Homo sapiens: one gene and its partners. The protein of the gene in region 1 interacts with the protein of each later gene in a pairwise test. Each region holds a gene or a part of one and is shown in the gene's direction. Other genes may lie near its edges. The genes, in order: TLK2, PAX5, FRMD6 and GMCL1.

Region 1 (7,484 bases):
GCTGGTATTACAGGTGTTGAGCCACCGCGCCCGGCCTAGAAGACGGAAGTTTGCATGTTGCCCAGGCTGGTCTCCAACTCCTGGGGTCAAGTGATCCACTGCCTCGGCCTCCCAATGTGCTGGGATTACAGGCGTGAGCCACTACACCTGGCCTCTTTTTTTTTTTTTTTTAAGAGACAAGGTTTCAATATATTGCCCAAGCTAGACTCAAACTCCTGGCCTCAAGCAACCCTCCTGCCTCAGCCTCCTAAGAGGCTGGAACTACAGACAGGTGCACGCCACTATGCTTGGCTCCTGTCTATGGCGGAGGTTGCAGTGAGCAGAGATTGTGCCATTGCACTCCATCCTGGGCGATAGAGCCAAACTTTGTCTCAAACAACAACAAAATCCCCTTAGAGCTCTTTCCTAGCAACCAAACGTTTTTCCATTTTGTTAGGAATTGGAAGAAGAGAGGAAATAACTGGCTAAGTAACTACTCTATATCAAGCACGGTTACAAGGCATTTTCCAACATTATTTCAATTTTAATGAAAGCTGCTCATGAAATTAGGTTTACTGGGTCACAGTTTTCAGATGAGGAACCTGGGACAGGTGAAGGGACAGAATTGGAACCCAGTTCTGTCATACCACAGATGCCCCACCTGTTCTACACTGGCCTGTCAAGAATAACAATAATAATAATTATTATTTTAGAGAGAGGCCTGCTGTGTTGGCCAGGTGGACTGCAGTGGCACGACCTCGGCTCACTGCAACCTTCGACTCCCAGGTTCAAGCGATTCTCCTGCCTCAGTCTCCCGACTAGCTGGGATTACAGGTGCCCACCACCACGCTCAGCTAATTTAAAAAATATTTTTAGCAGAGATGGGGTTTCACCATGTTGGCCAGGCTGGATCTCAATCTCCTGACCTCGTGATCCACCCGCCTTGGCCTCCCAAAGTGCTAGGATTACAGGTGTGAGCCACCGCGCCAGGCCCAATGATTATTTTAAATAATAATTATTTTTTTTGAGACGGAGTCTCGCTCTGTCACCCAGGCTGGAGTGCAGTGGTGTGATCTCGGCTCACTGCAACCTCCGCCTCCTGGGTTCAAGCGATTCTCCTGCCTTAGCCTCCCGAGTAGCTGGGACTACAGGCGCCCGCCACCACGCCTGGCTAATTTTTTTGTATTTTTAGTAGAGACAGGGTTTCACCGTGTTAAGACAGGATGGTCTCGACCTCCTGACCTCATGATCCACCGCCTCGGCCTCCCAAAATGCTGTGATTACAGGCGTGAGCCACCGCTCCCAGCCTTAAATAATTACTTTTATTTTATTATCATTATTTTTGAGACAGGGTCTCACTCTGTCACCCAGAATGGAGTGCAGTGGTGCCATCTTGGCTCACTGCAACCTCCGCCTCCTGGGTTCAAGCAAAATTCTCCTGTCTCAACCTCCCAAGTAGCTGAAAGTACAGGTACGTACCACTATGCCGAGCTAATTTTTGTATTTTTAGTAGACACGGGGTTTCACCATGTTGGCCAGGCTGGTCTCGAACTGCTGGCCTCAAGTGATCCACCCGCCTTAGCCTCCCAGAGTGCTGGGATTACAGGCGTGAGCTACCGCACCCAGCCTACTTTGAAAAATGGGATCATCGGCCAGGCGCGGTGGCTCATGCCTGTAATCACAGCACTTTGGGAGGCCGAGGTGGGCGGATCACGAGGTCAGGAGTTCGAGACCAGTCTGGCCAACATAGTGAAACTCCGTCTCTACTAAAAACACAAAAAATAAGCCAGGTGTGGTGGTGTGCGCCTGTAATCCCAGCTAGTTGGGAGGCTGAGGCGGGAGAATCGCATGAACCCAGGAGAAAGAGGTTGCAGCAAGCTGAGATTGTGCCACTGCACTTCAGCCCGGGCGACAGTGTGAGACTCTGTCACCAAAATAAAATAAAATAAAATAAAATAAAAAGATCCTCTAGCCCAAATCCCTCCATCACAGAAGCAGTTGGAGAAGTTTGAAAAGGTTAGATGATAGGCCCATGTGGCTTGTCTGTGGAAAGAGCTAGGCTGCAAGACACCTCTGACTCCATTGAGTGCTTTCTCTTACTCTCCTTTCCCGATTTAAGACATTAAATCATTTAAGACAGTGTCATTTGGTCGAGTGCGGTGGCTAACGCTTGAAATCCCAGCACTTTGGGAGGCTGAGATGGGCGGATCAACTGAGGTCAGGAATTCGAGACCAACGTGGCCAACATGGCAAAACCTCGATTCTACCAAAAAAGAAAAAAAAAAAAAATTAGCCGGGCCTGGTAGCGCGTGCCTGTAATCCCGGCTACTCAGGAGGCTGAGGCAGGGAGAACTGCTTGAACCCGGGTGGCAGAGGTTGCAGTGAGCCAAGATCGCACCACTGCACTCCAGCCTGGGCGACAGAGCGAGACTCTGTCTCAAAAAAAAAAAATTTTTTTTAAAAAGACAGTGTCATTTGATGGAGTTGCTTTCTTGATCGTTGGCTGCAATTAAAGACCTAGCCTCACTGTCTTTTGTGTTGCCTTGGACCGGCTCTTAGGTTCTACCGCCCTAACAGGCAGTGGAGGCTGGCCTCGAGTGGTAGTCCTCCATCTTGCCCTCTTTTCCTACCCTCTACCCCCAACCCGCGAGCTGCTCTCCTGTCTTCTTCCAACACTGTTCTCTTTGGGAATATGCATGTCCAACTTCCCAAGCAGTCTGGGATCTGGAGTAAGATGACTCTTGGTTTAATGAAGTTTTTCCACAGTGCTTGCATGTGCCCCAAGGGTTTGGAAGGTTGGAGAACTAACAAAAAGCAAAGAGCCATCCTGTGTCGTTTCGGCAGGTCTGTGTTCTGTTAAAATATGGAAGAATTAAGAGAAGAACGAAGAAATAAGGGCAGAAACTCCACTGGGGAGTACTTGTCTAACCCTGAAAAAGTTCAAGGCTGTTGTTCAAGGTCTGAATTTTTCCCTTGAGATTTGCTTGTAGTCCTTAAAGTCATCTTCAGACATCTGATCAAGGCAGCATCCGCGGAAAATTATAAGGTGGGTGGCTGCACTGGAGCCTGTCCTGGCTCAGGGGCGCCGGTGAAGAGTGATTTTTTTCCCTTGGCCTTGGGGGATCAGAGGGGGTGCCCTCTGCTATGCAGGAAGCCCTCCTTGCCCGCTAGATAGTTCTCATTCCTCAGGAGATACTCTGTGAGGGGCCGGCGTGTTTTCTCCATCTTGGCACTTACCCTCAGACCCTCCTAAGTACCCGGGAGGGCCGTGTTTTTCATCGGAGGTTGAAATGGAACCTCCCCCTGGGTGCCCGGGGAGAGTACCTTGGGGGCAGCGCCCCTCCTTCCGGAGGGCAGCATCCCCGCGGGGGCGGGGGCTCGGCTTTGATCCCAGGGCACCTTTTGTCCCTGGAGACGCTCTGCCAGCCAGGTACGTGGAGGGAGTGCAGCCCGCCCTCCCGGGCGACGCGCGGGGCTGGGGCGGGCCGGCGGCTCCGGGGAGTGGCGGCCGGGAGCCCGCGAACGCGGGTGGGCGCCGTCGCCTCACTAACCGGGCGCCTCCGGGAAGTCCGGGCGGGGTCCGCCGCTCACACATAGGATTAGCGTCCTCTAAACTCCATCCCTGGGAAAAGCCGCCGCACTTCTCACCCAAACTCGCGGAGCCGAGGGGCTGGGCAGGGGTTGGGCGGGCGCGGGGGCCGGCGAGGCGGATCCGGGAACGGGTGGACCCGGGCGGCCAAGCCCCTTCAGCGCCGGCCCAACCGCCCCGGCCCGGGCCAGTCCAGCGGGGCGGGGGCCGGCGACACAAAGGCGGCGGCGGGTCCTCCGGGCCTCCGGCCTCGGGCAGTCGCAGGGCGCCCCGGGCCGCCGGACCTCCCCTCGCGTTGCGGCCCGTCAGCCGGCGCCGCCCGTCGCCCGCCCTCAGCCGTCCGGCGAGGCGCGGCTTCCTCCGCCGGCGCGGGGTCCCCTGGTTAACCCCTGCCCGGCAGCGCGGCCGCTGATTGGAGAAGGCGGGGCGCCGGGGCAGCGGGGACCCCCCCCCACCTTCCTCGTCCCCTCCCCCTGCTCCCCCACTGTCGGCGCTTCCCCCACCCCCCCAGGACCCCCCCCGCCTCCCAGCCGTGCAAATCTCGCGAGGAAACACGCGGTTTCACTAGTGTGTTTACACCGATCACTACTAATCCGGACCGAACCGATCCGGATTAAGGGGCCGGAGGCGGGTCCTGGGCACCAGCGGTTCCGACCCCCCCGCCCTCCGCGCCGCACCCGAGTGGCCCCCAGCCGAGCGGGCCCCCACCTCCTGGCCCGGCCTGGGCCCTCCTGCGCCTCCCTTGGCCTTTGTCCGGCGCCAGGAGGCCGGTCCCGCGCCCCCCGCGGCCGCCCGGGCCCGGGCCCGCGTCGGGCGCCTGGCTCTGTACGCGAGCCCGGGGATCTGCGGCCTTCGTGCCCCCCCTCCCCCGCCCGCCCTCTCGTGGAGCCCGGCGCCGGCGGCGGCTGCCCGGGCGGGGGGTTGCGGCGCTCAGGAGAGGCCCCGGCTCCGCCCCGGGCCTGCCCAGGGGGAGAGCGGAGCGGTCCGCAGCCGGGTCGGGTCGGGGCCCCTCCCGGGAGGAGCGTGGAGCGGCGGCGGCGGCGGCGGCAGGTGAGAGGCTGAGCCCCGGGCGGGGGAGGACTCCAGGCCTGGGGCATTAACCGTCCTGGGGACCCCTTTGGCCTGAGGAGCCTGCGACCTGGGCCCAGCTCGGGGCCGGCTCCGGACCGCAGCTCCTGGGCGCTGAGGCGGGAGGGGCTCCCTGAGGGCTGCGGGTCGCTGAGGGGCCGGGCAGAAGATGGGGGAGGCCCAGGCGGCCCCGGCCTGGGATTGGGGCCGGCGGCCGGAGGAGAGACGGGGGCCCCCAGGCAGCTGGAGGCCTCGGCAGCCTCCCGGGCGCCCCCGAGAGCCGGCCCTCCCTTCCTCCGTGACAGGTGGGCCTGGAGTTGGGGAAAGTTTGGAGCCGGCGAGGGGCGCCGGGACCAGGCCCCATCGCTCCTGCTTCCCGGCTGTGGGCTGCAGGGAGGATCCCAGTCCAAGGCCCCGCTGGAATTAGACGGAGTGGCTATTTCCTTAACATGAGTTGACATTAAACGGAATAACCGCCGGGGCGTCATTTTCCGGGCCGGGCCTGGGGATGGAGGTTTGGGAAGTGTTGCGAGAGACCTTGGGGTTTGGGAGAGACTGCAACCTTTGCCATTCCGACCTCGATTAGGGCAGGGCAAGACGCGAGGAAGGCCACGGGGGAAACTCATTCTCCCAGTCTCTTTTTTTTCCTTCTTTTTCTTTTTGTAAAGATGCATTTCAACCTTTCTGAGAATTTCCTAATTCTCTCTCTAACCTGCACTTGCATGTGTGGGTGAAACTTTAATTTGTCACCTTTTCATTCCCCTTTGCCCCAGGCTCTCAATCCAGGAAGGGAAATGAAACTGAAGGACTTGTAAGGGGGTTGTTACTGGAGATTGTAGAGTTGTTGGATTGCAGAGGAGAATGTTCGATTCATCTTTTCAGTAACTTTAAAATCACACCAACCATTCCAACTACTTAATAATGTGTTCGAAGGGGTTCTATGTAATATGTTTCTTTTCCACTGTTAATATTAAAGAGAGGTTTTAAATGGGTCGTGTAGGAGTTGGTCTCTTGCAAAGGATGAACATATTTGCTGAAAGTAGCCTGTGCATTAATTGGTTATGGAAGTTTAAAAATGGTGTCCTCCTGCCCCTCCCTGCTTGGAAGAAGGGCTAAAAGCAGATGTCCAGAATCAAGAGAAAACTACTGCAGGGAGTGGTCAGAAAAAGATTTTTTAAAGGGATTGTTATGGAGCTATATTAATTTACTGAGTGAATGGAGGTGGATGGTTTTACCGTGGGCTCTCTATTAAATTTAAAATAATTCCTTTTCTCATGAGCTACTGTGAGCTCTTCAGAGACAGGAGCTGTATAATAGTGATTTTGCAGTTATTTGTAGCTTCTGATTCATCCTATATTCTTTTGAAATTATTGTCAATGATTCATATTTTTAGTTTAAGGACTACTTCCTGAGTGGGAAATAAATATCTGAAGATACTTAGCTAGATTAAGGCTGATAGAAGGAATTTTCTTTTTGCAGGCTAGTTCTTGTTTTGTTCTTTCCCCTGTGCTCAACTTTTACAGAAATTATATGAAGGGTTTGAGGGGTTTATTTTTGCTGTTAAAATCAAATCAGAACTAGGGAAGAAAAAGTGGCTGTCATAGAAGAGGACTTCTGAGCTGCTTTAAAACTTTTCAATATATTACTGTTTGATGCAGCACATAGTAGTCTACCACTTGTATGCTATATTTACTTGAGATTTACCTGCATTTGATCTTTCAGTGAAATAATTACTGTGAGTTTTGTTCTACAGAAAATTGCCTCCTCACATTTTAGTGTTTATGGTTTCACAGCCTACTTTTTCTTTTTCAGCAGAAATGATGGAAGAATTGCATAGCCTGGACCCACGACGGCAGGAATTATTGGAGGCCAGGTTTACTGGAGTAGGTGTTAGTAAGGTGAGTAAAATGATGATCATGAACACTATTCATATTCTAATTTAAACACATTTTTTAAATGATTAAGAGCAATTTGGGTAGGCCCTTCTGATAGTTTGCAGGGGAGAAGATTTGGGTCTTAATTTCAGTGAACTTTTAGATCCTACTGGTCATTCCAGTAGTCATTTAACATAGTAGGTTTGAAAATGTTCTATATGGGAATATATGTTTCTTCTTCCTTTCTGGTATAGGAGAGGTTTCTCATGGTTCTTGTTACAAGGAAACTAACAGGATGTGTGTATAGATTCTATGCCATATTTTGTTAAAACTTGTCAGCCATTCAGAAAGAAAATTACAAGGCATTGCATAGCTTTGTTACATTGGACTTTGGAGGTAGTTACATGGTAGAGTATTGAAAAATTGGCCTCTGTGAAGTCTGCAGACTCTTTACTGGTTGCACCCCCAGACTGGTTTGTTGCTCTTCTCATTCTTCCTTCTTAGTTTTTATTTTTGTTGCAGGAGCATAATATTAGATTAGGCCCCCATTAACGGGCACGTATGAAGTTAAGCAATGTTATAGTTTCCTATGCATGTTTATGTACCCACTGGTCCACCCCTCTGCTCTCATAGGATGATTTTACAATGTGTAAAATGTTTGATTTTAATACAGTATGCAAAGTATATTTACGATATTTTATTTAAAAGCTTTATTGGTCCAAGATCATATTACTTGGGCTTGAGATGTGTGAACGTATGAGCTACTGAATTTTTTTTTTTGAGACAGAGTTTTCCTCTTGTCGCCGAGGCTGGAGTGCAATGGCGTGATCTCGGCTCACTGCAGCCTCCACCTCCTGGGTTCAGGTGATGATTCTCCTGCCTCAGCCTCCTGAGTAGCTGGGATTACAGGTGCCCGCCACCACGCCCAGCTGATTTTTGTATTTTTAGTAGAGATGGGGTTTCACCATGTTGGC
Region 2 (7,435 bases), on another chromosome or scaffold:
TGAGTCCTTAGATCCGGGCAGACCTGGATGGATTGAGTACTTTCCCACTGGGCATTGACATCCAGTCTCACAGTTCTGGAATGAGCCTGGAATGGAGTGATAGATATTAATAACCCCCATCCATGAAGCTTCATCTCACAGAGCCTAAGAAGTCACATCTCAGGATTTGTTCTCTGTATTAAACAAACGGGGAAGCAGAGGCTTTAGAAGGGGCTGCCTGTCTCAAGTCTTTGGGAGAGAGAGTAGTCCCAGCGCCCCTGGCCTGCAGGACATGCTGGTAATGATAACACACCCCGACTAAGGTGATTTTACATGATTCTTGAAAAACCTGGTTAAATTCTCATTTTTTCTCCATCCTCTTCAAGAACTCCTGAAAACAGGGACAGGTCAAGTAGAGCAGACTCCTGATCCAGGGGCAGGAATCATGCAGGAATCTGCTGTGCCTCCACTTGCTGTATAATTTCAGGTCAATTTCTTTCCCTCTGATACTTAATTTTTTTTATTTTTTAAAAATGAAGTTTAGACAGAACTCAGTGGGTTGAGACAGCCATGCTGGCAGCATCCCTGATCTTTCCAGAACTGAGCAACCAGTCTGAGCCCTATTGGGCCTCACTTTGTCAGAAGCAAGAACAGGGAAATGGGCTGGACTTGGGTTGAGAGAGTCGATGTCAGGCTACTAGAACACTGTAGCAGCCCCCACATCCTGAAGCCACGGTAATGCAGTGCGCTGGGAGGCGTGGAAAGGGAAGCCGGGAGGGGGTGTGTCCCCAGTGAAACGAGGTCTCTGGCTTCTCACACATTATTCTCAATGGGCTGTCTTTCAGTACTAAAACTTTCAAAGGCAATTCGGTTCACATAAATTGAGTTTCTTCCTGGATAGTTTCCTTTCGCGGTCTCCTGCCCCCAGCGCCTAGCACAGGGCCCGGCCCAAAGCCCTGTTACTGGGAGAAAGAAAGCGCATCACTGTAGATCAGAGTGAGGCCCGACTGCGTTGAGAGCCGCGGTGAGAGCTGCTAGTCTCGCTCTCCTGGACCCAGGCTGCGGCTCGTGGGCGTTCAGAGACAGGACTGAGGCGCAGTAGCCCGGCTCCACCATGGACTTGCTGTGCAGCCTCGAGCTAGTCACGTAACCTCTCTGGGCTGTCGTTTGGTGACCTGTAAGGCTGGGCTAGGTGGTCACGGTATGAGGTCCGGTCGCGCCTTTTGGGGTTGGAACTTCCCAGAGGCCGCCCGCTCGGGCGGTGATGAATCACCCCTATCCAGAGGGAAACTCCTTCCCCCAAGAACGCCGAGAGTTGCGGGAAGGGGCTGCTCTGGGTGCACAGGTAAGACGGGTCCTGTGTGTGCCACGCAGCAGAACACTGTCCCGAAGCCGAACACCTACTGTGTGAAAGGGAGAATCGGCGCTACTCCTGCTCGGGCCGTGCCCCGGGGATTCTATGCAAGCCTCACGGGTATCCGAAGGAAAACCTGCGTGTGCGGGCATATTCCAGCCGAGTTCTTCGATTTGGCAGCATCGCCCCTCCCCCACCATCCCGAGAGCGGCTCTGGAGAGGCGCTTTTGAGAAAGGTTTCCAGCCCGCAGCCTTTCTTCTACCCCAGACTTGCTGTGTGACTTTGGACAAGTCGTATCCTGCCTCTGGGCCTCGGGTTCTGCACCCGTGAAATGGAGAAAGCATAGCTTCGAGGCCCTTTTAGCTCTAAGAATCTAGAGAACCTGGGTTTGTAGGCCTGAGCTCAGCAAGAGAGGCTGGGGGTGGGGGTGTCACTGGCTGCATCCCTCAGGGCGTCCCGCACTCCCGCCTCTCCAGTAGGTGTGCAAGCCGCCATGTTGAGTCTGGGCCGAGGATCTGAATTCTGGTTATTTCCGACCCACTGGGCGCCATCGGGTGAAGCCAGTGCAGGAAGTCTATTCCATCCCAGTCCCTCTCTGCTGTTGCGATCTTCCTGCTCCAAGGCCGGGGGTGAAAGGGGAAGATCCGGACAGGCGGGGTTCCAGACAAAGAAGAGATAACGCCGCCACTCCACCCCGGCGCGCACTGCAGCCTCCTGGGTCCCCAGAGTCCCGCCTGGGGCCGTTTTCCGCAGCTGTGCCCTGGTGGGGGGTGGGGACGGGTGTCAGCGCCGGAAACTTGTCTACTGGTCAGGGACAGCTGGGTGTGGAACAGGGACAGAAGGTGGGCCCAAGAGTCGACCCCAGTGTAGGAGTTTGAGAAGTAGAGCATGCGTAGAGAGAAGGCAGAGGAAGGGAAACCGAGGCAGAGAATAAAACAAGAGGATAACCCAGGAATCCTCTCATGATCAGCCTGTACTCTTCCTTACAAGCCCAGTCCTGGAGCAGGCATCTCAAAGCCCTTGTTTTGTGGATTTATGTTTAATATTAGCGGATCATCACTCATGAAATAGAAATTGAGTCTTCGGACCACTCCCATGAGTTGCTGGGGCAAGGGAATCCTCAGCGTCGTTCTTGAGCCAGGGCCCAGATGGCTCACAGAACTATAGCTTCTTGGGTGAAGAATGACTGTCACACGCTTCCTTTTCAAGGTCCAGTTTCTTTGATTGTTGTCTCAGAGCCTTAAAACCCACAAAGAAGCGGACTCGCTAGTCAAAGATCCCTTGTGTAGCAAGAGAGTTCTGCTACAAATCCATCCATTTTGTCTACATAGGGACAGGAACTTCCCCTGTAGAGGGAAGGTCAGTTTCCCATCAACTGGAAGCTGCCGCATTGCAGCGCGCCTGGCCGCTTTGCTTGACCCTTGCAGATAGAATGCGCCTGTCCACCCGCCCGCTTCAGGGACCCTTATTAGCCCTGGACGCGACTTGGCTCATTCGGTTCTCAAGAAGCCTTGAGCCGGGTGCGGAATTTCTCCGGTGGACAGAAGCGCAACACCAGCTCCCAAAGCCTCTGGCAGTTCCTGATCTGAGGCAGGAAAGAGGGCCAGCCACTCTGCTTGGGCAACCTGGCCCAAAGCCTTAGCCCCTCCACCCAGGTGCGCCCTGGTGCGCCCCAGTTACTAACTTTAAAGGAGTGTGAGATATTCTCCCCCTTCCCCCAACGTCTCTGCCTTTCGTTAATGCAGCAATGAGGGCCCTGCAGGTGGAGTGAGGGAGGAGGGTGGACGACGAGGAGCCAGTGGTGGTTTAGTAGGTACTTGATAAAATTAGGAAATAAAATTAGGAAATATTTCCGTGGAAGGAGCCTTCAGTAAAATCTAGTTAACCCCACTCTGCCCATTTTACAGAAGAGGAAAGTGAGGTCAGAACTGGCAGATATGCACACACTCCGATGCACACAATCCGATCCCATCACGAGCCTGATGGTACAGGATCCCTACTGCGCTCCTTGTCTTCCTCCAACATACATTTTTTGTTTTTTGGTTTTTTTGGAGACTTCCCCCATTCTCACCCTTCAATCGACTGCTCTCAAGCCTTGAGAGCGTCCCAGGATCCCAGCATCGCTGTGGGGAGGTCCAGCCCGCGTGGGACCCGCAGCGGGACTCTCCAGGCACTGCGTGGGCCCCTTTCCCCTCCCCACAGCCGCGATCCACTAGGCCTTAGTCCAGCGCGTTTGTCAATGAACGTGGCGCCGCCGCCTGGGCCCCGCCCCCCATTCTCTCCCATTGCCCAGGTGTCCGCTAATCAGGCGGAGCCTGTGGGCTGCTTAGCCAATGGGGCGGTGTTTCGGGCCAGGGCCGGCTGACGCCACTCTGATTGGCTTGGTGGAGCGTGATTGGCAGGTTAGCCCCCGCCCCGCCCCCGCCCGGAGGGAGCTGAGCCCCGGGCGGCGCTGTCCACACGCAGCGGGTCCTGAAAGCGGCTCCGGGGCGGCGCGGTGGCGCACTGTGCGCGCCGAGCAGGCGGAGGGCTAGCGACGGCGGCGGCGGCGGCAACGCAGGCAGTCAGAGCCGACTGCGGCTCCATCTCAGCCCCGGCAGCCCCGGCGGCCTTGGTGGCTGGGACCCTCTGCTCTCTCCTCTGTTCCTCACTCCACGCCTGGGGCAGGCACGGCGGCCGTCCCGGAAGAGGCAGCGGAAAGACAGTGGAATCAGACCCACGAGGGAGGGCGGCGGGGCTCGAAGAGTTGGTTGGCACGAGGTAGACACCCCGGCGAGGAAGAGTCCGTCGCTGGTGTCCCCGTTCCTGGTCCCAGCGATGGGCGAGCAGCGGGGGCCGCGGGAACTTTGAAGGCAGCGGGTCTCAGTGTTGGAGGGCTGCACGCTCCCGGGGACTCCGGAGTCGCGGCCCCAGCGTCAGGGGCGGAAGCATCTCCAAACCCGCCAGGACCCCGCGCTGCCGGAGAGGAAGTTCTTTGCAACTTCGTCCGAGACGTCGGAGAGCCAGTTGGAGAGAGGCGGAGGGGGCAAGTCCGAGCCCCAGAGACTCGGAGAAGCAGAGAAAGAAAGGATCTGGCGGAGACCGAGGGGTCGAGGAGGGACCTCAGAAGCATCGAGGCCGCGGAACCAGCCTGGCAGCCCCCGGGTCTCTCCGCCCCCTGAGTGAAGTCAAGGGCCGATTGTTCCGGCGGCCTCCTCAAAGCTGCTCCTTCCTGGGGCCGGGGGCTGCTGGCTGTCCCGGAGGCGGGCCCCTACGCTATGCCCCCGAAGCCGCGGGCGCCTTGGCCGCAGCTACCCCGGGCTGGGCCCGGAGCTGCTGCTTGAGCCAGCCAGGGAGGGAAGCCAGCCGGAGTTGGGCACCCGCTCCTAGCCCGGGTGCGCTAGCACCATTTCCCGCCTCTCCGCGCAGCTCCGGGCGGTCTCCAGCAGGGAGGCTCTGAGAGAGACCCCGAAGCTCCAGCAGTGTTTTCTGAGCCCAGCTCGCACAGTGCCTGGCCTGGTGGCGAGGCTCCCTATCCGCCCTGGGCAGCCCCTTGGCGCCGGGAGGCGGCGGCGTGGGCCGGCCTGCAGTCTGGAGCGCCCCGATGGAAATACACTGTAAGCACGACCCGTTTGCATCCATGCATAGTAAGTAGGCGGCGAGCTCGCTTCTCTCACTCTCCCGCCGGGACCGGGTTGGGGGTGCCGGACCGTGGGTCAGGTACTAAGGCCGGAAGGATCTCGGACCTCTGCAGCCGCGCAGCTAACTTTGCAAAGTGCAGGGATCCCAGGCAGGGGACCTGAAACAACGCACTTGGCCGCCCGGGCTGAGGCACCTGGGAATCCCGCCTCCGGCAACGCGTAGCTTGGGCAGCGAGCTGCAGCCTTTCAAGGCTCCGGCGGCGACATTTCAGCTCTTTCGGAGAACCCTGGCTTGGACCCGTAGAGGGCTCCGGGCCAGGCCAGTTGGAGGGCAGTAAGTTGTAGGGAGAGGCCAGTCAGAGTCTCAGACAGCGCCCCACACCCCTACTCCGATGGCGCCTTTTTCAGCCATGGGGCTGATCCAGACTGGCGCTTGGAGGGATAGTGGGGCCCTGACCCGTGTCTGTATGTGTGGAGGAAGAGGTTGAGAGCTAAGCGAGGACACCGGGGCTAGGGCTCCAAAGGCGTCCTGGAGTTGAGGAGGGGGCTTTGAAAAATCAAGGAAGTAGCGGTTTCTGAGTTCAGCTTCTGCTTAGGAGCCGGCCAGTTCATACAGAGACCCTTAAAGACCCCATTGGGTCCTTCTCTGCAGGACGCCTTTTCTCATGGCTTCTCCCCTTTAAAAAAAGAGGATAAGAAACGAAAAAGAAAGAAAGAAAGAGGAAGCCAATTAGTTACCACGCAGGCACCCCCGCCTCTGAAAGACGCAGCGTGTGTAGGAGACGGGAAGGGTCATTTAGGGCGAGGGCAAGGCCGGCCTGGCTGCCTGGCCCGCAGGGATCCTGCCAATTCACCCATTACCACAGCCTCCTGTGAGATGAGCGCTCCTCTCACGGTGAGTTAACGCCGGATTAGATTCGGAGATTTCAAGGAAATTCCAAGTGGAACGAATCGCGTTTCCTTTCTGTTTGCTGCAGAGCCAGGCTGGAGGAAGGTGACAGGCTTCGGCAGCCTCGGCTCGGGTGCCGCTCGGGGTCTCTGCGGGCTTCAGGTCAGGGAGTTGCTCCCGGGCTAGGAGCCGTCCCCATGCCTGGTCCTCCCACCCCGCTCCCCCCCATCCCAACAGCCTGGGATCCAGCTTTCCTAGCCGCAGGTCCCCTATTTAACAAAGGCAGCAGAGACCCGGCTGGAGTGAAGGTGAGCTTCCCGGGGCGAGCATGTCCGTGTCTGCCACGCAGTGCTGAGTGGCCTGGCAAGCAGGGGAAAGCTTGTGTAGGCAGCCAGGGCTGGCTGCGGGCAGGTCAGTTTCTCTTTGTGTCAATTTTCTGAGTCTGAAGTAATCCACCAAAGCGGTGGGGAGCTCTGTGCAGAGGAGCCCCCTGTTCTGGTCCCAGCCCAAACGATTCCTCAAGGTTTGGGGCCTGCGCCCAACCGGTTTCCAGTCTGTGGTGACCCCAGTGCCCTCCACAGCCTTTTCTGCCTCGGACTCCAGCCTGGCTCTGGGGAGGACCTGATCTTGCAATGTAAGCCCAAAACAAACCAGTTAGGGCAATGCTCTGAGAGGTGAGCAAGCCCTTGGCTCAGCCAAGGAGCAACTGTGGGGACAGATGGGGAGCACCAGCCCCTGCACTTCTCTCCTCACTGGTGGAAATCCACAGGCCCTCACTGTGTCCTTCCGCCCAGCGCTCGGTGGCCCAGAGGTTGTGCCCTAGCCCTTGGGGAGATAGCATCAGACCTGGTGGTCTCTCGGCTGAGCATCAGTGTGGAGAAGGCGGCTTCTTTCAGGTGCAGGTTAGCCAACCGCTAATGTCTGTGCCTCCTTGTCCGGCCTTCAATCGCCCCCTCCGTGGGAAGTGCTCCCTCCCATTTTCAATCTCCCTGGCAGCACAGTGGGGGCTGGGCCCCAGCCAGTCTAGCTTCCAGAGCAGGTGCAAGACCTTGGCTTCTCTGGAAGCACTCTCGGTTCTGAGGCCCAAAGCTGTTTTCTTGCACAATGTAGGCCTGCTCTGGGGCCCCAACTTGCTAGCAATGGGGAGTGGGGGGTACAGTAGATCCTGGAAGGTGGCTGAGGTAGTAGAGGCTCAGATCAAGTCCCACTTCGTCACCTTCCTCCTGGCCCAGTCAGTTTCTTCTTCCTGTTACCGCTCCCTGCCTCCGTCCCCCTACCACTGCTTCCCCCCACCACTGCTTCAGAGCCGGATAGCTTCTTTGGAGAGGAGCAGGGACTTCCAGGAAATGGGCTTCTGAGTTTGGAGGAGTCCCCACCCACTATTCCAGGCTCATCATTTTCATCAGCACGATAACCTCCTGCTCTCTTCCTGAGCGGTTCCCCTAGGTATCTTTACCAGTTATAAAACACTCATAGCCAGGGTCCTACCTGACGGTGGCCTAAACCTTCAGCTTCACCCATTTTGCAGAATATGATATTGAGGTCAGAGAGACAAAAGGACTGACTCAAGAAGTTCACATTGGCACAGCTGG
Region 3 (7,435 bases), on another chromosome or scaffold:
TAGCAATTAGATTTCAACCTGAGTTTAGGAGGGAACAGACATTCAAACCATAGCAGTAGAGGAATGAAGAAATGACACATGCTTAGTTTCTTCTACTTAGGGGTTTTCCAGGTCTGAAAAAGGCCTGAAATTAAGTTTCTCTGGGTCAACTTTGGCCTGAATCCAAGATCTCACCCCCATTTAAGGGCTTTATCATTTTAACATGAAAAGCCCTTTTTTGGGCATTAGTTTAGCAAAAAACAGCATAAAAAGAGTCTGTGTTTTTCTTAATTTTATGTAGAGTCACCTTGTCTAAAACACTATTTTAGCATTTTAGTAGAAAATGATCACAAGGATTTTTCCATAGGGTTTAGAAGAGAAACAAAAACATGCCTTGCGTCATTTAAAAAAATGTTAAAGCCTAACTTTATTCAACAGCTGGAGCTTATTCCTAGGATAAGTATTCACATTTACTGCATTATTTTCCAAAGTAGCGTATGAAAAACCTCATTGTCTCTGGGCTTTTACAACAGAGGGAGTAAAAAGAGCACAGGCATGTTGATGATCTGCACTGTTGACACCAGTGATTATTAGGGGGATGAGAGGTTGCATTTTACATTTCTTAGAAAACATTTCAGAATTATTTAATGTTTCTCTCAGTTTGTAACTGAACGGTGTGAAGCTTCCTAAATGTCTGGAAAGGGTCTGGTACAGCACTAGGGAGGGAAGAGAAGCCAGCCATGTGGAACACCCAGGCCATGCTAACATGTTGACAGGAATAGGTAGAAAACAGGCTGGCAAGTACTTGTCTTCTCGTGAGCATACTAGTGAATATAGAGGAACTATAGTGATCTCTGAACCTATCAGGAAGTTGAGAGTAAAAAGGCTATATGTAAAGATACAGAAAAGCTTTTAAATTATTAGGTCCACAGTTCCTAATTATTTTAGAACAATGGAACTCCAACAACTTAGAGACTTTTACTTTTTTCTCTTCACTTGCCACTCATCCAAGGGCCACATGGCTATTGCTGTGAAACCACAGTGAATAAAAACTACAGTAATTTTTGCAAACTGCTTTAGCTGTCCACCTTCATCTCACACCTGCTGATTCAGAAGATGGGGATTGTTAGGCCCCAGTCTGCTCCCTGACAAGTTGTACATGGATGCATTTTTGTTGTGATGATATGTGCGTGGAGCTCTGGTGTCTGGTTTCAGCCTGCTTTCTCTGTAGCAACACATACTCACCTTTGTGTTTCAGCCAGTTCCTTAGAACAATGTGAATAGGCTGGAACCTGGAAATGTGCACATAGCCTTCTCCAAGCATTTTTTTTTTGCATTTTGCATCCTAGAAGGCGCATCTTTTCTTTCTCCTCCTGCTCATTTTCTCTCTAGGGACCCTGTGATGATTATACTTCCGAGCTGGATTCAGACATCAGGCATGCAAGTATTTTCACTTAACCAAGAAACAAGACAATTAAAATCCATTAACAGGCCCCTGAGAACCCAATTAGTCTACTAGTTTCTAAAATCAGATCAACTTCACATTCCCCAAATGCACTCTCCATTTTTAACATTGTTTTATTGTATTATTTCTCACCAGTATTAAAAAGGCAAGGAATCTAAACTTCTTCCTTGTTTTACATTTCTGACCTGAAAGACAAGAATAATATTTTTGTGTCAGTTGAGTTGTAACTGGCAGCTGGGTTGTAACTTTGTGCCTTAATGGAATGGTTAGTTTATATGTAATAAAAGAGACTTTGCAGTGTTGTGTGTTTGACTGCGTTAAAGAACAGCACTGACATGTGAAATCAAAGAACAGCTTTACCAGTCAGAGTTGGAAATCATCAAACCAGTAGTGATTACTGGTATTTTCTAAGTAGATGATAAAGCCTCACTAATTCAGCCTAAGTGGAGAAAATCAATCTTATATTAATGAAAATCCAAATTTTAGAATATTCACAAGAAATTCTCAGAAGAATAGTTTTATTTTAAATTGTATTCAGCAGCTAGAGCTAAGCTAACAGTGGAACAAATTGAACAAATGAACAAATAAAATGAATGGCAATTAGCATAATTGTATTTATTAAGTAGTCTTCTAGAGCAGTGCTTCTGAAATTATCTGCAGAAAAGGGCCAGATTTTTAAAATATTTAATATGCTATGGATACTTTCGCAAAATACAAAATCACATTGGTGGCTGTCATGGCAATGTCACATAGCTCTGGAAGTTTCTAAATGTTCATATCACTCACTGAATTTATTTCACTATGGACCAATAAATTTGCAGACAAGAAGTGGTCTGTAACTGCACTTTAAATACCACTCTTCTTATACTGCTTGAAGCTTTCAAAAAACTAAGTAGTTTAAATATCCCCCTCAAATCTGTTGCACTGGTTTTTATTCATTTTTCAGTCTTCTGAAGTCAAATTCCTATCTAAATTATTACTACTTTCCAATCACTAGATTCTGAATTTGAAGTTATCCTTGTTCTTGGCCTGATGAGTCACTTAAGCTCACCAGCCGTTCCTTCTGTCTTGGTTAATGAACTGTGTTCCCCACCACGTAGAGAAGAAGCAGTACCGGGAATCTTACATCAGTGACAACCTGGACCTCGACATGGACCAGCTGGAAAAACGGTCGCGGGCCAGCGGGAGCAGTGCGGGCAGCATGAAACACAAGCGCCTGTCCCGTCATTCCACCGCCAGCCACAGCAGTTCCCACACCTCGGGCATTGAGGCAGACACCAAGCCCCGGGACACGGGGCCAGAAGACAGCTACTCCAGCAGTGCCATCCACCGCAAGCTGAAAACCTGCAGCTCAATGACCAGTCATGGCAGCTCCCACACCTCAGGGGTGGAGAGTGGCGGCAAAGACCGGCTGGAAGAGGACTTACAGGACGATGGTAACAGTACTGTCCCCTCACTGGCTCTCTGTTTAGTCTCCCAGTTTTTTCAAGCATTGGTTCTATAGAACTGGTGTCTGGAGAGCAACTTTAGGCAGTAGTAATAAAGTGGAAGAGGTGTCTTGTTGTCTTCCCCAATGACTTGGTTGAGTTGCTTGTGTTTGGCTGTGAACAAAACATCCCTCTAGTTGTGATCCTTTGCGGCCACAAGACTGGATGGTTGTAGACTCAGTCTTAGCTGTTTCTATGAAGTAGATTGGAAATTAGTCCTGCTGCCCTTGTGTCTGTATTTCTGCTTCCCAGATTAAATAAAACAGTGGTTAGGACAGCACAGTGGAGTGCAGTAATAGTGACAGAAACATCTTGAACTTCTGGACCCCTCCCCACAAAGTAAAGATTGGAGTCCATGCCATTGAGTTACTTAGTAATGTTTTTCTGAAGCGCCTCCCATGTAACCAGAACTATAGGGAGGATAAAAGAAATATAGCACCTGGTTGATAGGAACTTACTGCATGTTAAGGAGATAAGATGAATCCTATGGCTTATCTTAGCCAAACTTAACATTTGTGTCCCTCTTTTATATTATTTTTCTGTCTCAAATAAGTGCTGTAGCATTCAGGCTTGACGGAAAAGATAGACTTTGTTAAAGAAAAGTGCAGACCATCTTTTTGGTTTCTGTAGAATTTGTGTGGCTCTCAAGTCACTCAGTGCCCTTCAGAATAGGCAGCTATGGACATGGGGGGCTTTGTGAACTGTCATCTGCCTGTGTCAGTGAGCCTTGCTTTGGTATCAGGCAAAGGGCCCATCAGTTTCGGTTTGTCCTTTGTCATTGCAGCAAGGTGGTATAGTTTTTCTTCTTAAAAAATACAGAATAATGGGCAAATTATAGTATTAAAACACATATAGGTAATGCAGCAATCCGATAAGAAAGAACAAGTAGGCCAGGCATGGTGGCTCACACTTGTAATCCTGGCACTTTGGGAGGCCAAGGCAGGCGGATCACGAGGTCAAGAGATCAAGGCCATTCTGGCCAACATGATGAAACCTCATCTCTGCTAAAAATACAAAAATTGGATGGGCGTAGTGGCGCGCGTCTTCAGTCCCAGCTACTCGGGAGGCTGAGGCAGGAGAATCGCTTGAACCCAGGAGGCGGAGGTTGCAGTGAGCGGAGATCACACCACTCCAGCCTGGTGACAGAGTGAGACTTCGTCTCAAAAAGAAAGAAATTGAGAAAGAAAGAGAGGGAGGGAGGGAGGGAAGGAAGGAAGGAAGGAACAAGTAGTACCTGTTGAAAATGGTCCCAGGAAGGAAGGAAGGAAGGAAGGAAGGGAGGGAGGAAGGGAGGGAGGAAGGAAGGGAGGAAGGAAGGAGGGAAGGAGGGAAGGAGTAAACAAGTAGTACCTGTTGAAAATGGTCCCTGGAGTTTCCTATTGGAGTCTCATTAGCAAATTTATTTTCAAATAGGAATAATTACATAGCCACCCTCAAAATATGGTTGCATATTATGATGGTCATTTCCCTTTTTGTCATTAACTATCTTTTCCTTCTTCTGTGTCAGAAATAGAGATGTTGGTTGATGACCCCCGGGATCTGGAGCAGATGAATGAAGAGTCTCTGGAAGTCAGCCCAGACATGTGCATCTACATCACAGAGGACATGCTCATGTCGCGGAAGCTGAATGGACACTCTGGTGAGCTCTTACGGGAAGTTATTCTTCCTTGGTAGCAGGTTATCCAGGACTGAAAAACACATGCCTCAGAAAATAGAAGGGGTGAGCTGGGGGCCCTAGACCAGAGACTGGACTGCACTAAGAGTCTCTTCAGGTCAGTGTTGTAAACTGCAGGATCCTGTGCCTTCTGTGGAAGGCAGGGAAGAGGAGAAACACCCAGGACTGGGAATTAGCATTTTGTGCTCCATGCTTTGGACAAAAGGTAGTTGAACAGTAGGGTTCTCTTTATGTTATGCTGTGTCGAGAATCATATAATGTATCTGGAAGGCCTTGTAGACCCCTTCAGTCTGGCCTCCTTTTTACAGATAAGTTAACCTATAGTTCAAAGAGGACAAATCCAACATGGCTAGAAACAGAAGTAGGCCTCCAGGTTTTTGGGGTTTTTTTGTTTTTTGTTTTTCCCACTGTGTTATACTGGTAGAGGAGTCTGGGAGGAAAAGTGTCAAAATGGGTTGACCTAAAAAGACACTCTTAAATTCCATATTCGTATGAATTCCTGTAGAAAACATGCATTCCCTATAGTTATATAATACATCATATATATTTCTGTTACATGTAAGATACTATCTTTAAAAAACGGCAGCAGTATCAGTTTTGTTTATAGACATCAGTCAGATCTAACTGCTTTTGTCACACATCATGAATCAGTCTGTTCTTTAGAGAAATATGCCTCAGGAACCAGCACTATTGAAATGGCCCCTTCCAGCTTTGATTGAATGAAGGGCCTGACTGAGGTAGCCTGTCCCTGCTCTGGCAAATCCACAGCTCCTGATGTTCATCGAGCCTCCTCCTCCAGGTGCCAGGCACTGGAAATCAGAGAGGAACCAGACCGATACACAGTCACTACCATCCTGGCACTTAGTCTTCAAGAGCAGGAGGCATCTTTTATTTCAGAATTCTGTTCGCTAACCCAACAGAACCCTGGCTTCCCAGACCTGCCTGTAGCTGCAGGGAATCATCTCTCTGACCAACACTGACTCATTAGGCTGCTTACCCTAAACATGCTTAGAGTTCATATACCAAACTTTGCCCCTTTTTGCCCATGTACTTTATGATATTGAATTTTCTCCTATAATTACATTTTAATTTAAATTCACAATTATATGCACATTATAGGTCCATGTATATAGCTCTGTGTGTTTATGCTTGTGGAAAGGAAATGGTCTAAAAACTGTGTATGCCGCAGTGCCTTTGGGAAGGGAGGTATGAGGGAAGCTGACCTGGACTTTGCGTTTATATATTTCTGCATTTAATTTTTATAAGACTGTTAATTTTAAATAGAAATAAAATTTAAGTAAAAAGCCTGGCTGTTTAAGAAGATTTATATATAAAAAAAGTTTGTTGAAATGTTATAAAAATAATTAAAGAATGAGTGGTAAGGCCAGGTGTGGTGGCTCACACGTATAATCCCAGCACTTTGGGAGGCCAAGGTGGGTGGATCACCTGAGGTCAGGAGTTGGAGATCAGCCTGGCCAACGTGGTGAAACCCCATCTCTACTAAAATGCAAAAAAAAAAAATTAGCTGCAGGCCTGTAATCCCAGCTACATGGGTGGCTGGGGCAGGAGAATCGCTTGAACCCAGGAGGCAGAGGTTGCAGTGACCCAAGATTGTGTCACTGTACTCCATCCTGGGCAAAAGAGTGAGACTCTGTCAAAAAAAAAAAAAAGAAAAAGAACAAGTGGTTAAATTATACCTTATTCATACAATGGTATATAACCATTAAATTCGAGATTTTCAAACAATATTTAATAACATAAGAAGGATAGTTAAGGTAAATAGTAAAAATTATATAAAATGTCATCTAATTAAAAACAAGAATATTTATTTGTGTATTTTAAAAACGTAAAACTATTAATAGCCTTTTATTTGGATGTTAGGGTTATAGATATAGATGATTTTATTTTCTTTCTTACATCATCTTAGTTTTCTAAATTCTCTATTAATTTGAGCATTTAAACGTTGCTTATAAAACATTCAGCTAAGTACTCGCCTTGGCAGCACATACACTAAAGTTGCAGTGATACAGAGAAGATTAGCATGGCCCCTGGGCAAGGATGACATGCAAATTTGTGAAGTGTTCCATATCTTTAAAAAAAAAAAAAACACTCAGCTAAGATTGAGTAGTGATGAAGTATACCACACTGTCTTTCATTCTTACAGAGTTTGATAGGAGTTGGTTAAGTGTTTTGAGCATCAGCTCGGTGTTGACTTTTCCAGTGGTGGGTCTGAGTTTGGAGAATACTCTTTACAGGCATGATAGCTGAGGGCACATTTACCAGGAAATCGAAAAGGAACCATGACAACTTGTTTAAAGGTTTAATGCTCTTTAGAAGATAAAGATCGTTCTAGATCCTCTACTAAAGCCATTTGTACTAACTCCTAAAACATGAGTATCCCCTGAGTTTTTAAAGTGTCTACTTGTAAACCAGTAATGTCTTCATATTTCATGTTTCAATTGAACTAATTATTGAATACTTAATATGTTTATGGCATATGCTAGACACTGAGTCATTATGAGATGTTTCTAAAGAGTTAAGGGATAGAACACAAGTCATTCTGTAGACTACTAGCAGTAGTTGAATAAGAATCACATTACTTAAAGGGTTTTTTGTTTTTTTTTTTTAAGAAGCCATTTGGCCTTATGGATCTAGGGCTTGACCTGTAGTACACTTGCTTCATCCATTGGCAAGAAAAATTTCAGCGGTGTTCACTTACACCTCTAGTTCTTATTGGTAATTTTACCTTCTGAGACATGTTTCTACTCAGTGCTTCACTCATATGCCAGTCACATAGGGAAATGTCAGCCCTGGATTTCTGCTTCTGAA
Region 4 (7,435 bases), on another chromosome or scaffold:
CAAAAGTATATTTTGATACACCTAATAGTGTCCTTATCTTAATTTCTTTTCTCCTGTGGACATATTTGGCAGTTCTTTTTCTGTTGAAGTAATAGAATGGATGAGTTTAGTTAATGGATAGAATAGTTGCTTAGAATTAGAAATGGGCAAATAATTTGGAAGACACAGAAAGTACTTGATAATCGTTGACTTTTTTTTTTGTTTAAGTCTGGCTACTTTTCTAGTATGTTCAGTGGTTCTTGGAAAGAATCCAGCATGAATATTATTGAACTGGAGATTCCTGACCAGAACATTGATGTAGAAGGTAACTACCACAATAATTACTATTATGCAACAATCGTAAAAACATAATCTTATTCTTCTGGTAGAAGATAAATAATTCCTTCCAGCCTTGTAGTCTAGAAAACTCCTTTTATCACCTCAAGGTGATAATTTGATGTTGATTTACACCATAGTTTATCAGTTCTGTCCATCTTATCACTAATCTGTTTTGTCATTTGGGCCTTATCAGTTTGTTTACTTATCTTTGTAAATATGCCCACCTGGGATATGGAAGATGTAGGATGGAGGAAGGAAAAGTATGACCATTTTTTTTTTTAATTACATAGAAAATCTGATAAATAATACTGATTATTCCCTATGTATGAAGATGTTTTCTGGGAACAATAAATAAAAATATTGTTTTAGAGCTAAAAGAATCCTTAGTTGAGGAAGCTGAGGCTCAGAGGAGTTAAGGGACTTATTTTGGATCTCAGAGCAGTTTAGTGAGCCTGTGTCAGACTACAGCTCTCCTCATTCCCATTCCAGTGCTCTTGCTGCTCCCCTCATTGGTGGTCCACATGGAAGTACCTGGTGCGATACAAAGGCAAAGAAATACTTTAGTTAAGAATATTTACAGCCTGTAATCCCAGCACGTTGGGAGGCCAAGGTGGGTGGATCACAAGGTCAGGAGATCGAGACCATCCTGGCTAACATGGTGAACCCCATCTCTACTTAAAAAAATACAAAAAATTAGCCAAGCGTGGTGGCAGGCACCTGTAGTCCCAGCTATTTGGGAGGCTGAGGCAGGAGAATGGCGTGAACCCGGGAGGCAGAGCTTGCAGTGAGCCGAGATCGCGCCACTGCACTCCAGCCTGGGCGACAGAGCGAGACTCCATCTCAAAAAAAAAAAAAAGAATATTTACAAAGCAAACCATGTGGGACATTCATAACAGTGGCAGTGGAGGAAGGATGAACAGGCATAGATCACTGTGGGGGCTGGGAATGAGTGTGGCATGGACAGGACTCAGGAGCTGTACCACATTTCTCAGTGGTGGAGTGCTGAAAGCAGCCGGGTTAAGATTATCTTTGAGTCTGCGTATTTGTACTTAACGATTGGTCTACTGAGGAGTATCTTATACAACTTCTTGCAAGGCATCTTGGTTGTGACCACTGATGTCAAGATTACATGTTAGAAGAATGCAGCTAGATTTGGTAGAATAAACAGAAATTTATAACCTTGTTATTAAATTAACAGTGTCAACCAGTAACCATTACTAGCGTTTTAATTAGAGATACTTCTGTTATCCTTTTATGTGCATGCCACATTTAGACGGATGTCTTTGTGTGTGAAGACAGTCGTTGTTGTTATTTGTATAACACTTGTAATAGATATAAATATTATTTCATCCTACATGTGTACCTTGCTTTCAGCACTGCAGGTTGCATTTGGTTCACTGTATCGAGATGATGTCTTGATAAAGCCCAGTCGAGTTGTTGCCATTTTGGCAGCAGCTTGTTTGCTGCAGTTGGTAAGTATGCACGTTATTCGAAGAAAGGTTCAGAATAATAATCTTTGTCTCAAAGTGTGTACTCCAAAAACAAAAATAAAGCTTAGCTTTTTTGGAGTTTTTAAATAAAAATGAAATGTATAAATATGACATTTATTATAAATCATTTAAAATGCCTAACCAAAAGCAATTTATTACAACCGAGGGAGTCATGATGTCTGCATAAAATGAATGCAGGCCATTTCTGTGTAGATATCTTAGTATGACTATAATGTGGAAAAAACGTACTTGTCTAAGGTCATTTACAGATTTCATTAATGACTTGACTATTAAGCAGATGGCTTATGATTACCAATTAATTTCATTCATGGGTTCAAATAAACATGCATGCCTACTATTTAAATTTCTCTTAATTTTGAAAGAATTGTGTATAAATCACATATATGTATTTTAATCTACTGGCAGAATGACAGATTTGTTCATTGAAGAGAAGTGTGTTGAGCACTGTGTCAAACTAGACACAGAAAGCCAAAGGTAACTTAAGACGTAATCCTTACTTTCAAAAAGTTCACAACATAGTATGTATGTGTGGAGAGGGGAGGGAGGGTTGATATACAAACCCAAAGGTAAAGTAAGAGCTGTTCAATATTATAGGTATGATAATAAACATCCTGTAGCATTTAGTGAATGGATAAAGAAGGGAGTGGTCAGTTCATCCTGGTGGTGTCACATACGAAAGTTACATTTTCACACAGAGTCTTGAAAGTGTGTTTGTATTGCAAAGTAAGAAGAGGGGAAGGAAGAGCATTTCAGACAGAGAGAACAGAGTAAACTAAGATCTAGTGATGTGAAATAATGGAGGATTCAAGACTCTAACAGAAACATGGCTCCCACATAAACATAAGAAGGATTGCAGAAGAGGGGGGCAGAAGCCAGATCATGAAAATACATCTATACATTGCTAAGAAGTTTAGCATACACAGTACCTTTGGAATATTTTAATCAGGGGAAAGACGAAGTTATGTTTTAGAAAGAATACTTCAGTAACAATGTGACAGATGAATTGAAGGAAAGATGAGTACAGCATTAGAGACAAAAACTTGTTGCATTCGTCCAAGGGAGGAAAGTAGGGTAGTAGCAATAAGCTTGGAGGGGAAAAAGTGGATACCAGAGAGATTCAGGGATAATCCACTGGACTTGGTGATAGACTAAATGTTAAGAGGAAAGGGGAGGAGTCTAGAATGATTTCCAGGTAAGTTTAAAATCCTAATGGAGTCAATGTTTTATTTTAATCTTAAAAAATTGTTTACTTTTATGTGGTATTTTTGTACTGATTTATTTGAAGTATTAATAGCTTGCTAAATATCCTTGGTTGAGATCATTTGATTTTCAAAATGTTTTGATCCTTTCAATACTTACTTCCAATAAGTATACTTTATTATCTAACTCTGGTCCTTTTGGTTTTGTTCTAAATTCACCTTCTGCTTACTTTTATGATTTACTAACTCTTTAACTTAATATACCTGCATGATGAATGTATTTCAGAAATTTGAATGAAAAGTAGTATTCTTCCCATATATTAAAGTTAGTTCACTTAAAACCTATATAAACATTTTAGGTTAAAACTTTAATGTTAATCATTTGAAATAATAATATACTTGTTTTAAGTCTATCTCTTAGATATTGTAGTTATTTTAAACTTGATCACTTTCTGCTAATGCATACTGTTAGTTTAGTCCCATCACATGGTTAACTGACTATGTAGACTTCTTAATTTAAAAAGAAATGGCAAAACAGACAAAATGCTGCTAAAGAAATTTGCAAAGGTCTCAGACAGGGGAAGAATAGAAAAGAAAAAGAATAGCAGTATTCATTCTCTACCTTACTACTCCCCCCCACCTTCCATTTTCAAATTCCAAGTATTTAGTTGAATACTTGCTGAACTTTTTTCAGTATTTTTATTGGACTTGTTAAAAAAAAAAAAAAAAACTTAGGTTTGCTGCACTTAATGAGTTTTCTTTCTTTTCTTTCTTCTTTTTTTTTTTCTTTTACTTTTTAATATGTAAAAGCTGTCAGAGCTAATTTTTCCCACGTGAAATGGGCCTTTCCAGTGCTTATTTATATTTACAGGACGGTTTAATACAGCAGTGTGGTGAGACAATGAAGGAAACAGTTAATGTGAAAACTGTATGTGGCTATTACACATCAGCAGGGACCTATGGATTAGATTCTGTAAAGAAAAAGTGAGTTGCCTTTCTTGTTTTTCTTCCTATCCCACTTTTAGGAATTTGGTTGCTTTAGTTTCTTAAGAGAATGTATAGCTATAAGAAAGAAAGAATTAAGGAAAAATAGGATAGGGGGATGGAATTTTATTAAATAAAAAGCCCCTTTTAACTTTTGGACTAATTAGTAAATTCCTCAAAAGTGTCGTCTTTGTAAGTGACCATAGGTGGGTTATATACATGCTTATAAAAACCATGGTCACCTTGGTCGGGTGTGGTGGCTAACACCTGTAATCCCAGTGGTTTGGGAGGCCAAGGCAGAAAGATCACTTGGGCCCAGGAGATTAAGACCAGCCTGAGCAATGTAGGGAGACCCCATCTCTACAAAAAATTTTAAAAATTAGCCAGGCATGGTGGCATGCACCTGTGGTCCCCACTATTCTGGAGGCTGAGGTCAGAGGATTCTTTGAGCCCAGGAGGTTCAAGACTGCAATGAGCCGTGATCATGCCACTGCACTTTATAGTATATTTTCTATTAAAATTGTTTAAGAAGTAGGCCTGATAGACTGACAGTCCTTCTAACTCTTGAGAGTTGCAGTACCTGTTTTGAGATTTTAAAGAAGGTTATACTAGTATGCAGACCCCTTAATAAACTATTTAACACAAACTCAAAATGAAGTTTTAAAACTGGAAATGCTCTCGTTAATATAAAGGAAATATTCTCTTAATAATATCCACTGACAAAAATAATACTAAATTTCCTATTGTTAAGCTAAAAGTTTTGAGCATGTTCTGGCAAGATTAATCTGATTTTATTTTAACTATAAGTCCTACTTAATAAATTGTAAATACATGGCATATAATGTAATAATTATATATTTTAATTTCAGGTGCCTTGAATGGCTTCTAAACAATTTGATGACTCACCAGAATGTTGAACTTTTTAAAGAACTCAGGTATTTGAATTTCAAGTAACTTCATAATTAGTCATCCTAAAATATTGTTTATCATTTGTTAAAGTACATAACATTTTTGTAGAACACAAAAATATATTATGAAAAAGCAAACAATTTAATGAAAGGGCTTGACTACATCCATAAACTGAAGAAATGCTGTGCAAACTTATTTCTTTGTTGTGAATAATATAATGGATATTATGTCTACTGTTTTAACCGAAAAATGCATTACTGTTATAAGACTATAGAAAAGTTTCAGGTTTTGCCAGGCTGTTAGAGAATTTAAAAGTTATATTTTAAAAATCATCTTTTTTATTGAGAAATAAGTTTGAAGAAACTGTTTTGGCCTTTTTTTTTTTTTTTTTTTACCTTCAAAAACTTTTCATGTTGATCCGTTTTCTCACTAGGATGAATTCTCTGATGTGGAGTAACAAATGTGTGTCTCCTATAAATGTATATTTTTCCATCTCTGATTATTTCACACCTTGAATCCAAATCTGTAGTCCCAGCTACTCTGGAGGCTGAGGCAGGAGGATTGCTTAAGCCATAGAGGTCAAGGTTGCAGTGAGCTGTGATTGCGACACTGCTCTCCAGCCTCAGTGAGAGTGAGACAAGTTACCATGGTTCTTCACCGTCACCTCCTGGTACAAGGTCTTCTGAACCAGGTCAAGGTATTCCCACTCCTGATGAGAGAAGTCTGTGGCCATGTCCCTGAATGTTACAAATTCACAGGCCATGGTTTTAGACAAGCAAAAGCCAATCAGTCCTCAGGGTTTCTCTACCAGAAAAGCGATTTGGGAAAACCTAGACCTATAATCCCAGCACTTTGGGAGGCCAAGGTGGGAGGATTGCTTGAATCTAGGAGTTCGAGATCATCCTGGGCAACATAGTGACATCCCCTCTCTTTGAGAAAATATCAATCTTCCTTTAAAAAAAACCTGTTAGCGCCACACAGGGTCCCATGCAGGCTTCAGGCTGGGGCTGCAGAGGCTCCTGCAGTCAACTGCGCCGCCTTCGTCCTCAAGCGGGACCTGGTCAGACGCAGCACAGCGCAGAGCCAGAGGTCCTGGAGATGGAGCCAGAGGTCCAAGATTTCTCCATCACCTGTGGACTATGTAGTCCAAGCTGGAATAATAGGACCGCAGTCACCCGTGAGAAATGGATTCCAGGGTTCTAAAAACCTACAAGAAATATGGCGGTGACAATGAGGACTGCCCACCCTGCCCACCACCCAAGCTGCAGAGCAGCCTTTCTTTTTTAAAGAGATGGGGGCCTTGGTATGTTGCCCAGGCTAGACTCAAACTCCTGAGCTCAAGCAGTCCTCCTGCCTCAGCCTCCAAGTAGCAGGGATTATAGGCACATACCACTGCACCCAGCTTAGTTTGGCTTTTTGGATTAAGTACGCATATTATCCATTTATTCCTGCAGCAAGTACTTCCTGACTGTCCTTTATATGTAAAGATACTCTATTAGGGGCTGTGAAGAATGCAGAGATGATTTTGTCATGGTCTCTTGCTGTCAAAGAGCTTATTTGTAGTAATGGGACTAAGATATTTGTGATGGGTCTGAGAAAATCTGGCTAGCAGTTAACTTTTGAAGGCTGGTTGGCATTACAGTCATTTTCTGGCTTGCATTTCCCTGACAGCAGTGCTTCTGAGACAAGGATACAAATGTGTCCGAGAGTATGTGACATTCTGATGGAAATGTACAAAACCAAAGTCAAACATTACATAGCTTCCCAGAATGTGAATTTTACTGATTTTTTTTTTTTTTTTGGTGGGGAGGAGGTGGGGAAGAGGTAAATATTTTTATGTTTAAATACATTATGGAATAGAGGGAATTCAAATTTCCTTGAACTCTCAAGATACAATTTATAGAAATGTTACTTTTTATGGTTAGACCACCTCCTAGATTATGGGGTTTTTTTCCTTTCTTTTGCCTTTACGAGATAATTTGGTAGAGAAGTGTGAGAGACTTTCATCACCTGGTGATGTCAAGGCATAAATAAATCACCGTAGAATGTTTGATTTGAAAATCGTTAGAAACACTTTAATACAGTCAACCCTGCTTATCCATGGGTTCTCCATTTGTGGATTCTACCAACTGCCGATTGAAAAGATTTGGGGGAAAAACTATAAAAAATAATAACAAAAAAACCCAATGTAGTATGACAACTATTGCATAACATTTACATTGTATTAGGTACTGTAAGAACACCTAGAGATGATTTAAAGTATATGAGAGGATGTGCATAGGTTACATGCAAATACTATGCCATTTTATATAAGGGACTTGAGCATAGAGGATTTTGGTATTTGTAGGAGGTTCTGAAACCAATCCCCCACAGATACAGGGGGATGACTCTAATTTCTCACTGAACTTTTTGAAAAAGGAGCAGGATCCTCTTAAAAACCCACGTGCTCTCTTGGCTTTTTATGGCTCAAAGGAAAGAAAGAACAAAGGAAAAGCAAAACAAAACAAATAACTG

The links.
Region 2: the proteins of TLK2 (region 1) and PAX5 interact in binary tests that used the Homo sapiens proteins (3 or more experiments, as listed by UniProt).
Region 3: the proteins of TLK2 (region 1) and FRMD6 interact in binary tests that used the Homo sapiens proteins (3 or more experiments, as listed by UniProt).
Region 4: the proteins of TLK2 (region 1) and GMCL1 interact in binary tests that used the Homo sapiens proteins (3 or more experiments, as listed by UniProt).

What each region holds. Positions count from the first base shown.
Region 1 is NC_000017.11:62,474,673-62,482,156, forward strand, and holds the start of TLK2 (serine/threonine-protein kinase tousled-like 2), read left to right. Parts: upstream 1-4,152; 5' UTR 4,153-4,618; intron 4,619-4,771; exon of another isoform or gene 4,772-4,805; coding exon of another isoform or gene 4,806-4,941; intron 4,942-6,095; exon of another isoform or gene 6,096-6,115; intron 6,116-6,448; coding exon of another isoform or gene 6,449-6,453; coding exon 6,454-6,534; intron 6,535-7,484. UniProt on the Homo sapiens protein: Serine/threonine-protein kinase involved in the process of chromatin assembly and probably also DNA replication, transcription, repair, and chromosome segregation. Phosphorylates the chromatin assembly factors ASF1A and ASF1B.
Region 2 is NC_000009.12:37,024,058-37,031,492, reverse strand, and holds part of PAX5 (paired box protein Pax-5), read left to right. Parts: intron 1-159; exon of another isoform or gene 160-2,573; intron 2,574-3,405; exon of another isoform or gene 3,406-3,548; intron 3,549-7,435. UniProt on the Homo sapiens protein: Transcription factor that plays an essential role in commitment of lymphoid progenitors to the B-lymphocyte lineage. Fulfills a dual role by repressing B-lineage inappropriate genes and simultaneously activating B-lineage-specific genes.
Region 3 is NC_000014.9:51,717,511-51,724,945, forward strand, and holds part of FRMD6 (FERM domain-containing protein 6), read left to right. Parts: intron 1-2,544; coding exon 2,545-2,880; intron 2,881-4,438; coding exon 4,439-4,570; intron 4,571-7,435.
Region 4 is NC_000002.12:69,839,250-69,846,684, forward strand, and holds part of GMCL1 (germ cell-less protein-like 1), read left to right. Parts: intron 1-207; coding exon 208-304; intron 305-1,692; coding exon 1,693-1,790; intron 1,791-2,233; exon of another isoform or gene 2,234-2,303; intron 2,304-3,838; exon of another isoform or gene 3,839-3,866; coding exon of another isoform or gene 3,867-3,899; coding exon 3,900-4,012; intron 4,013-4,881; coding exon 4,882-4,947; intron 4,948-5,335; exon of another isoform or gene 5,336-5,618; intron 5,619-7,435. UniProt on the Homo sapiens protein: Possible function in spermatogenesis. Enhances the degradation of MDM2 and increases the amount of p53 probably by modulating the nucleocytoplasmic transport.